Homo sapiens: one gene and its partners. The main gene of each other region encodes a partner of the protein of the gene in region 3 in a complex. Each region holds a gene or a part of one and is shown on either strand. Other genes may lie near its edges.

Evidence for each region.
Region 1: GPKOW (region 3) and BUD13 share a complex: the UniProt entries of both Homo sapiens proteins name them as parts of the minor spliceosome.
Region 2: GPKOW (region 3) and SRRM1 share a complex: the UniProt entries of both Homo sapiens proteins name them as parts of the minor spliceosome.

Annotation. Positions count from the first base shown.
Region 1 is NC_000011.10:116,762,988-116,766,640, forward strand, and holds part of BUD13 (BUD13 homolog), read right to left. Parts: intron 2,460-3,653; coding exon 2,375-2,459; intron 280-2,374; coding exon 1-279. UniProt on the Homo sapiens protein: Involved in pre-mRNA splicing as component of the activated spliceosome. As a component of the minor spliceosome, involved in the splicing of U12-type introns in pre-mRNAs.
Region 2 is NC_000001.11:24,653,210-24,656,862, reverse strand, and holds part of SRRM1 (serine/arginine repetitive matrix protein 1), read right to left. Parts: intron 2,558-3,653; coding exon of another isoform or gene 2,520-2,557; intron 2,009-2,519; coding exon 1,734-2,008; intron 1,212-1,733; coding exon of another isoform or gene 1,200-1,211; exon of another isoform or gene 1,173-1,199; intron 1-1,172. UniProt on the Homo sapiens protein: Part of pre- and post-splicing multiprotein mRNP complexes. As a component of the minor spliceosome, involved in the splicing of U12-type introns in pre-mRNAs. Involved in numerous pre-mRNA processing events.
Region 3 is NC_000023.11:49,117,153-49,120,805, forward strand, and holds part of GPKOW (G-patch domain and KOW motifs-containing protein), read right to left. Parts: intron 2,663-3,653; coding exon 2,553-2,662; intron 659-2,552; coding exon 445-658; intron 11-444; coding exon 1-10. UniProt on the Homo sapiens protein: RNA-binding protein involved in pre-mRNA splicing. As a component of the minor spliceosome, involved in the splicing of U12-type introns in pre-mRNAs.

The DNA of each region.
Region 1 (3,653 bases), on a different chromosome or scaffold from region 3:
AAGGATCTGGAGAATCATGACGGGCCCTCCTTGGGGGTGAAGTGTCTGAGGAGTCATGACGGATCCTCCTGGGAGGAGATGTGTCTGAGTCATGACGAGCCCCTCTGAGGGGAGAAGGATCCGGGGTGTCATGACGGGCCCTCCTAGGAGATGGATCCGGGGTGTCATGACGGTCCTTCCTAGGAGATGGATCTGGGGTACCATGACGGACCCTCCTAGGAGATGAATCCGGGGTATCGTGACGAAAATGTCTGTTTGAGGGTAGGTCTTCGTTGTGGCCTAAACACAAATAACAAAGAGTCAGATTCCCACAAATGCTCTGTCCCTCTGTCCACCCCCACACCCAGTTTCAAAAGATGCTCCAGTAGCACATACCTCAGAACTGCTCAGAAAGCCCAAAAGGCCTGCACAGTTTTCTTGCTTAGGGGCAGCAAACCACCACTCATGAATATCTTAAGAATAACCCCTCCGCCTACCAAGTCATAAATTTGCAAAGCATTTTCAGCACATTTTTCATATTATACCCTTTAAGGTAAGCAGGGCAGGTACCCTTGTATTACAGCATGAAAACAGAGGCCACAGCCTCTGTTTTCAGCTGAGGAGCTGAGTGATTTCTTACCTAAGGTCACAGCTCCTAAAATGAAGACACAGGCTAGAATCCAAGTCTTCTAACTCCCAGTCCAATGTTCTTTCTAAAACCTCATTTGTGCAGAGTTCCCAGCTAGTGGCTCCTACTGATATTTTGCCTAGATACTTTATAGTTTGTACTCACTCTTCTTTCAATAGGTAAATTGACTAAAACGGTGAATATCAAAATAAAATGCTGTTAACTATTTAATCCATTTCACTGTGCTCTTTCTTAGAGAGGGGAAAAATCACCATAAAAAAGAAAGGAGCAAGTAATTACCAATCACCTACTGTGTGCCAGTGTTTCATAGAGATTACCTGATTCAATTCTCACAACAAGCCTAGGACATAAATACTGTCATTTCATTTATAGATGAGGAAGTTGATACTCAGAAAGATTAACTTGCCAAAGTCATATTGCTAATAAGTGGTAGAGGAATATTTAAATCCAGCTCTATTTGACTCCAGAGTCCATGTGCAATCTTTAAAATATGTAAAGCTTTAAAGTTAAAATACATAGTTTGAGACCTTCCATATTCAAAGGCACCACAGAATGAAATATCTATAGCAACTGGAACAGTTTCAAAATCCAGTTCTTCCTCTACCTCTATTTCTTGTCATTGAGCTCCACAGCCCAAATACAAATAAAAGCTGGGTAGGAACTGATGAATACTTGTTAAATGGATGAATTAAACCAAGTCAACTCCTTTACTTTGGGGAACAGCCCTATCTGATTGGAATCCACTCCACAGAGAAAAGTATGATGTCTGTGGGGGGCCTAACAGTAAATCTGAAGGAAGCAAGGGTCAGAGATTGGTAAGCGTACTTCCAATAACAAATTGGGATGGGGGAGTGAAAGCAAGGCAGAAGAAAAGGAGTGAGTGAGTGTGAGTGTGACTGTGTGTGTGTGTGACTGACCTTCTAAACATTCAGATACACAAGAAAAGGCACCGTGTGTATGTGTGTGTCTGTGTGTCTTCCTAGACAAACAGACATGGAGACCAAAAGATTCTCTTTGGAAAAGAATTCTGATTAGGCTACAAAAATCAAATACCTACTAGCAATTAAACAATTCTACAAATATTTATTAAAGGTAGCTCCTTGTGCTAGATAGGGGAATATCATGGCAAATAAGACTAGTCTATGCTCAAACAGATGTGACAAACAAATGCTTTTTATCCAATTCTCAAGGACTCAAATTTTTTTAAAGAGAGTTAAATTAAGATTATTAGCTTAGGAAGAGTCCAAAGTGGGCAAGTGGAGGGTAATGCACTATAAAACACCAATACTTAAGGAAAGAAGAGAGAAATTTACTAACACAAACAGAACAAAATACACTGGTCCTTGACCCCCCAGAAATGAGTTGCTTCATTGTGGAAGAGGATAGTGGTAGCTAAAGTCCCCAAATTCTGCTCCTGTTTCTTGTAAACTCCTCCCAAAGTCTTGCCTATACACCAAGTGCTCTCCTATTCTGAGTCAAAGAGGAATGGGTGCTCAAAGGCCTCCAAATTAGTCACCAACCTCAGTAATCCTAATGCCAAAATATAAGAGAAAGAGGAATATCTGGTCTATAAGTTCCTATGTCTTACTACCTCTGAAGAAGTCCAACTTCCTTTTTCCTGCTTTATTTTTCAGGATCAATGACATGCTAAAACAAACTATGCATTCCTCTAAAGAAAAGTATAGAAAAGGAAAAAAGATCTCCCCTACTAATGGAAATTTAGATTTATCTATTGTTGGAACTCACCTCCCAGAAGCTTCCATTTGGCACTGGAACGAAAGGCCTCCATCTGCTTTACCTCTTCTGGCCGCTCATCCACAAACTCTGCCACCTGTGAGAGTAAAGATTTCCTATCTTAGGAAATCCACAGGATCCAGCCAAGAAGCACTGTCTCAAGAACCTGAAGTTACAACCATTCCGATTCCTAACACAAGGGCGTACATATATCCAAAATGGTCATGAAGAAGTAAGTAGGGGTCTTCAGTTATGTTTGCTCCATAAACATCTGATTGTCACTGTATTGGTTTAATTGTAGATCCTTCTCTAATTAATCAATTACCCTGCAAAGGTTAATTTTTTTCATTACAAACCTTTTTATTAACCTGCTAGGTACACAACAGCCACTTGTAAACTAACAACTAAATTCCTTTTACACTTTTACTTCTACATTAACAGTGGAAACATAGGTGGCTCCCCCCATCATGCCTAGCACTAATCAAGGACTTTGGGTTTCTATGAATCCTTTCTTGTTGTAGGTAGTCACAGTGATAGGTTTTCTTGAATACAACCAAAAAGAGCCACTGAGATGTACACAGAATCATTAATCTTTAAGAGCTAAAACCACATTTCATATCTTCTAAACTTCTGAACAAATCAGAATCTTCTCTATAGTATTCCTAATAAGTGGTCACTCGCCCAATCCCTTCCTGACAAGGAACTCATTATCTTACAACACAGTCCACTGCATTTTTCAAAAATGTTAGAAAGTTCTTAGTTTTACTAGTACCGTATCTGCCTTCCTATAACTTCTTTGAATTCATTCTAGTTCTGACCTGTGATGTAAGTCCACATGACAAACTTTCAAGATTGCTGGCATAATAAATCCTAGTTACAGAGTAGCAACTATGTGCAAGGTACTGTGTTTTGTGGTTTACTCATATAATCTAACTCGATTCTCACAATAATCCTGTAAAGAAAGGCTCCACACTACTGAATAGCAAACTGATTCGGAGAAGTTCAGTAACTTTCTCAATGTCACAAGCTAACAAGTGGCAGAACTGGAATTTAAATCCAGGTCATAATAGCCCTCTACTTCTCCCAAAATCCTACCATCATTCTTCATATAACCCAGTTTTGAGATCTCTCACTGAGCGTTAAAAGCACAGGTTTCGGGCAAGATGAATTAAGATCTAAACCCCAGCTCGGCCACTTAGCATTTGTGTAACCTTTGGTAAATTATTCTAAGCCTCAATTTCCTCATTTGTAAAAGTGGGATTCAAAGGATTGCTATAAGGATTGAATGAGA
Region 2 (3,653 bases), on a different chromosome or scaffold from region 3:
AAGAAATTAGCATCTGTGCAGATGCTTTTTAAAAGTACCTAATAATTCTTAACAATCAACCTATTTTAACAAGGATTGGTCCCTCTGTTCAGGTACTTTTGCAACTCTTAGGCTATATGATATAAATAGAAAAAAATCATCACTTGATGTGTTTTTGCAAAGTAACAGGTAAAAACACTTGTTTTTTTCCCTGGAGAGCTTTGTGGCTCCAGACAAAGAATAAATATTCAGAAGTACAAACTTTACAGGAAAAGACAAAATAGGCCAGGGCCATGGGCATCAGATTTGGACATGGTAACTGAAAATGGACTGAAATTTTCCCAATGCTGAAAAGCAGTATGGTACATGAGGTTATGAAAACAGTGATCCCGAAGCCCCTCTCTCAAACTGAGGACTGAACCTGGAACAGTTACAGGCTTCTCTACTTTCACTAGCTGCTTCTCTAAGGGGCCAACAAAAGTGGCCATGTCTTATTTAATGAACCTATCACTACAATAAAAATGTCACAATTCAGAAAACATTACTTTTTACAGACTATCATAATCTGCTGGTCACCCTTTCACTCTGTCAGCTTATCTATGCCTCATTGTCACAGATACAAAAAAGGAAAGCAAAATTTGCCTTTCTAGGTATCACCACATTGCAGCCTTGGGGAGTGGGGAGATAAGGCAACAGGGTGAATAATTAGCAATGCTGGTCTCATCAAGCTCATTAAAATGTATAATGAAAATTTTGCCCATCCCCATTTCTTTGTTTCTAACCTGAAATTTTTTCTCTCTCTTTTTTTAAGAGTCAGGATCTCGCTATGGGGCTGAGGCCAGCCTTGAACTTCTGGGATCAAGTGATCTTCCTGCCTTAGCCTTCTGAGTAGCTGGGACCACAGGCTCATGCCACCACACCTGGCTCTAACCTGAAATTTTCAATATGATCATAATAACCCCAGCGTGTGTTAACCTACAGATTGCTCCTTAAAACTCAATTGCTTTAGCAGCTTTTAAGATCCTCCCCATCCCTTACTACTCACCTTTTAGGCTGTATATCATTCCAGCCCTAAGCTCCAGAGAGCCTGGTTCAAATGGACACTACAGTTTTTTCCATGCGTATTTAATGCTCACAGAACAAACCCCAATAGACCACAACCTTCACTCAGACTAACACAGCATTCTACTTGCCTGGCAGGTTCACAGATCATAAATTCCTCAGAAATCAATCTGCAGAATAAAGCAAGGACAACACTCAGAAGAACCCTGCCTAGAACCTAAATTAAAAAAACAAATCAGCTTTTAAGAGGACACCATGTCCTTTGCTTGGGAGCGCAATGCGACCAAGAAAGAACTAAAAGAGAATATGAAGTCCTCTTATTTAAGATATCAAACCAAAAATCTTCAGGAGAAAAAAAAGTTAACTGGTCTCATAGTAATAAAATGATCCCTTATCATGCCAACGCAAACTTTGATATGTTACCCCAACTCAAACAGCCCACGGCTGGTAAAAGATTTCTCCACCTGCGCAATGCCACAGGGCATTGCTAAAAACAAAACCCTTTTACACATAAAAAAGCCCCAAGATTTTAAAGCAGGAAAGAGGTAGGCTTATAAGTAAACCTACAGAGAGTATTAGATACAAATATTATCTAGCTATTTCATACTTTGAGAGTGAGCAGGGGGCAATAACTGACTACGCTTTGTAGCCAAAGAAAGAGAGACCATGTTTCATATGTGTTTGATTTTTACCTTTACCTGAAGTTCTCCCTGGAGACACAGAAACACGACTTTTTCTTGTACGGTTTGACTGCTGGGGTGTAGGGGAATGCCGAGTTTTGGGTGGTGGAGTTGCAGGAGGTGATGGCCTGTGCCTTCGCCTTGGAGGACTTGCTGAAGGAGATAACCTACGAGTTTTCCGAGGGGGGCTGGATGTCCTCTTGGGAGGCTTCTTTGGTGGTGACCGTGAACGAGATGAAGAGGATGATGAGCTACTCCCAGACAAGGATGCTGACGAACGTCTTCTTCTGTGGAATAAAGTATTCATATTCACTAATTGCACACTTATAAAGAACGGCCTTACAGGTATGAACAGTTTACACAAAAATACAGCTATTTTAATCCGACTTTTGAGTTTATGTAGCTAAGCACATAAATGAGTCCAAAAGAATGGGGGAAAAAACCATAACCTAGGCCAGGAAACAGCTAGTTCTGAGATTAATATAAACAACTTAATCTGATAAATACTTCTGTCTGTGTTCTCTCTCCAGTTATAAAACTTGTCAGGTTGAATGCTATAATAAAATAACTAACTAGTCCTTCTGCCTTAGGAATGGTATTGGTGTTTTGGAGTTTGCATATAAAATTTGGGGGCAAGGTATTTTCCATTTAATAACACAATGTTGAGAAACCTTTAGGTTGCATTTTTAAAAAAGATGTGCAAAACTAAGAATTCATTTAGCTACATAAACTTAGAAGCAGGGGCCTCTCGAATTCTGCGGCAAAATTTGTGTTAAGTTCTGTTGCAATTATGTGTACCTGCAGAATTCACCTTTGGCGGAAGAATTCCTGAGAACCTGAAAAAAAGAAACCCTACCTTAAGTGTGAGATAAAAACTGGCTGAAAGGGAATCTTAAACAATCTGTAAAATATTGACTGCTAAATGGCTGAGTAAGCACAATTTAAACATGCTGTTTGCAAAACTCCAGTATAAGAAATAGCTGTTTCCACTAATCTTGTACTAGGAAGCACCAGCATTACTTTTCTCCTAAAAGGGAATTAGAAAAGTGTGATGCCTGAAAATTGACTGACCATTTACCTCACTAATTTCCTCTATGAGCACAACACATCAATTCTTTGCAACAGTAGTAATAGTTCAATATATCTTAACAACCCCTCCCCAAAGAAAATTTTCAAAATATGGGACTCTGAAAAACCTGACTGCAGAAACAAAGTAACTTTACAGAGCTTACTTGATTTTTCCCCTCTTTATTTCCAAATTGATTTGGTTCCCTGAAAAGAACTTTAAAAGACTCAAACAAAAAATTCTGTCCAAAATAACTGGAAGCTTAATCATCGGCATTTCTTCCCAAGCCAGGTGAAACGTATTGCAAGAAGGCACAAAAACTGCTACCAGTGCACTAGGACTCTACTTTGGGTAGACTTAGCCACTAATTTTTGTTTAAAGTGATATATCCAAGATTCAAATATTTTATCTTATGCTCATTTTAGAATGATGTAAAAAAAAGAACACTGGTACAGTTGGGGTTTTGAAAAATAACCAGACACTAAACTAGTAATAGCAATTATATCTATGGAATATAGATATATTCCCCCACGGATTATGGAAAACTTCCAAGTTATGCTATTTCTGTCTGAATTACTTATAAGCTTCATTACTTCTATAATGAGAATTTTCTGAGAATTTTATAAAAAATTCATAAAAATACTTTTCTCAAAGTATAACAGCAAATGAATTACTTTAATACTGGTAAAAGGAGCTTACTGGCCCTATAATCAGCTACTTTTCAGAAGCCAGTTAAAAGCCAAAGAGAAGGTGGCCAATTCTCTTACTTAGTATGATTTCTTGGTGAAGTCTAGAAGGGTAAAAGTTAACAGAAAAGTATCAATAAGATGAATTTCTCGTTTACTTTCCAACACCAGACTAGACAC
Region 3 (3,653 bases):
GGCCTTCCACCTAAAGTGTTGAGGGGAAGAAGTCAGGTAGGGGTTGTGGACTCCACCCACATTCCTAGGACCAAGATGTCAACCCCTTACCTCTAAGAGGCCTGCTTCCTCTGTCTCCCCAACCAGACTCTGACCCCTGAGAAGTGGGACCAGGTCTGGTTCCTGTGTCTCCCTCAGCTGACTGTGGGGCTTCCTTGGATCCTTTAAGCATTTAATCTTCAGGGACTTGTGGCATATGGCATTCTCTTCCTTTTAGCTGGGAACTGAGGCTCACAAAGGCCAGCAAGTGGTCCTGGGTTACTGAGTGAGGCAGTGGGCCAAGCAGACCTAAAAGACTAGGAGTCCCAGCCTTTCTACCTCAAATCCAATTATTCCTCCATCTGACCCTCGGATCAACCTTCCCTGCTGCCTGTTTTGGGCTCCCGGGATATCTTGGTTCCTTACCTTCCCATAGAGGCCTCGGTGAGGGCCAGAAAGAACCACCACAGCTCCTCCAGGCACCAGCCCTTGAGGCTGATCTTCCTTATCTTTCTCTTGCTCCTCATCTGGTCTTGGCATGCGGGAGGGGCCAGTGGGGGTCAAGGCCTGGGCCTCGGTCAGGTTGGCACCCAGCCCTAACCCCTTGGGCCTCAGTGAGTTGACACGGGGCTTCACTACTCTGCAGGGAGGAATATGGGTTTGTTGGAGAGGATGCAACAGTCTTCAACACCTTATTTACTTCCTCTTCCTGCCCAAACCCGCCCCACCCGCCCCATTGACATTTTCTTTTCTTTTCTTTTTTTTTGGAGATGGAGTTTTGCTCTTGTCATCCAGGCTGGAGTACAATGGCTCGATCTCGACTCAATGCAACCTCCACCTCCCAGGTTCAAGGGATTCTCCTGCCTCAGCCTCCCGAGTTGCTGGGGTTACAGGCGCATGCCACCATGCCCGGCTAATTTTTGTATTTTTAGTAGAGACAGGGTTTCACCATGTTGGTCAGGCCGGTCTTGAACTCCTGACCTCAGGTGATCCGTCCTCTTTGGCCTCCCAAAGTGCTGAGATTACAGGTGTGAGCCACCGTGTCCAGCCCCCACCAATATTTTCAAGGTTGCCCTTTCTGATCTCATATTAGGACTGTTTTTGACCTACAGAAACAGCAATTTCATTTGGTTCAACCTAATAACATGCTGCATATACCATCTATTACATAATATCTACAGTGAGATCAGAGGCAGATCGCTGTAACCAAATATACTATTTCTACAGGGGAAATCATATGAACATTCACACCGAGCAGGAGAAACCGGATTATAAATACTCAACATGGTTGGGCATGGTGGCTCATGCCTGTAATCCCAGCACTTTGGGAGACCGAGGTTGGTAGATCACCTAAGGTCAGGAGTTCAAGACCAGCCTGGTCAACATGGGGAAACCCCATCTCTACTAAAAATACAAAAATTAACCAGGCATGCTGGTGCATGCCTGTAATCCCAGCTACTCAGGAGGCTGAGGCAGGACAATCACTTGAACTCAGGAGGTAGAGGTCGCAGCGAGCCGAGATTGCGCCACTGCATCCCAGCCTGGGTGACAGACAGAGACTCCATCTCAAAAAAAAAAAAAAAAAAAAAAAAAAAACGCCAATTCAGGTCATATTTGGCTGCCAATGGGTTATGAAAAAATGTTTGGTTTTCAGAATTATTGAGTTTGCAATTGTGAAGAAAGGGTTGCAAGTCTGCATGACAATAGCAAATGTTTAGTCTACGCTTTCTTGGGGTCAGGGCCTACTGTATGTGCTTTATGTATATAATTTCTTTTCCTTTTCCTTTTTTTTTTTTTTTTTGAGACGGAGTCTCACTGTCACCCAGGCTGGAATGCAGTGGTGCAATTTCGGCTCACTGCAAGCTCCGCCTCCCAGGTTCACGCCATTCTCCTGCCTCAGCCTCCTGAGTAGCTGGGACTACAGGCACCCGCCACCATGCCCGGCTAATTTTTTGTATTTTTTTTTTTAGTAGAGATGGGCTTTCACCGTGTTAGCCAGGATGGTCTCGATCTCCTGACCTCGTGATCCACCCACCTCAGCCTCCCAAAGTGCTGGGATTATATGTGTGAGCCACCACACCCGGCCCTAATTTCTTTTCTTAAAATTAATTAATCTTTTGTAGAGATGGGGCCTCCCTATGTTGCCCAGGCCAGTCTCAAACTCCTGGAGTTAAGTGATCCTCCTGCCTCAGTCTCCGAAAGTGCTGGGATTACAGGCATGAGCCACTACCTGGCCTATGTGTATAATTTCATTTAACTCTCACAACAGACCTATGAAGTCAGTACTATTACCCCCATTTTTCAGATGAGGAAATTGATGTCCCTAGAGGCAAACTTTATATAAATGGGATTCTATTAGAGTTTCAAAGGGCAAATGGGAGTTTAAAACAGTAGTGGAAGGGGCTGCTGAATTAGTTAGGGCGATAATGTATCCTCCCTCCCTGCCTAGGTGGTTCTGGTTTGGCAGTGACCCTGGGGATCTTGATTGCAGCCTGATGATCTGTCTGTCCCCTCGACCCTATCCCAGAACTCACTGATTGAAGGTGCGGCCGATGCCCTCGCCAGGTTTCCAGCCCATGCCCCGCAGCATGGCCAGCCCATAGGCCTCCACGGGGACCGCCTCATAATTAGCCTCCTCTGGCACCTACAGGTTCAGGTAGAGGAAGGAGGGTCAGGCTTTGCTTACACTGGGTCTTCTATTTGAAGTGCACTTGCTGCCCCCCACTGGGAGACCTGCTACGCGTCTTTTCCAATCAGCTCAAGGGTGAGTTTTGATTTCCTCTTTCCATCCCTCACTGTACTCCTCCATGTTCAGTCCTTCAACAAATATAAAGCACCTTGTCTATGGCAAGTACTGTTCTAGGTACTGGGGATGAAGCTGTGAACCAAACAGACAAAAACCCCTACCCCTGCAGAGCTTCTGATCTAGTTGTGGAGACATACTATAAATAAAACCCAGAAAACATGATATGTCAGGTGGTGATGTAAAGAACAAGAAAACAGGGTAAGAAGATGCAGAGGGATGGAGAGGGAGTGCCACTGGGTTGACATTTAAGCAGAGATCAGGAGATGACAGCAGAGGGAGCCATGAGGATATGAGAAGAAAGTGTCCCAAGCTGAAAGCATAGTAACAGCAAAGGCCCTGAGGCCGGACAAGGCTTGGTATGTGTGAGGGGTATCATGAAAGTCACCATGACTGAAATGGAGAGAGTGAGAGTAGACAGCAGAGAAGGGTGGGGAAGAGACCAAATCAGGAGAGCTGGGCAGGAGTCAGAGGACCTTGAGCCAGGTGGGAGCCACAAGAGGGACCAGTGAGGAAATTACTCTAATAGTCCAGATGAGAGATGCTGGTGGCTCAGCCCTTTGCAGTGGTATTGGTGGTGGTGAGAAGTGGTCAGTTCTGGGTGTCATTTTGAAAAAAGATGATAGGATTGTGCTGGCATATTGTATGGGGCACGAAATAAAGAGAGGAATTGAGGATGACTCCAAGGTTTTCTTTTTTTTTTTTCTTGAGATGAAGTCTTGCTGTGTTGCCCAGGCTGGAGTGCAGTTGCATGATCTCAGCTCACTGCAACCTCAGTCTCCTGGGTTCAAGCGATTCTCCTGCCTCAGCCTCCCGAGTAGCTGTGATTACA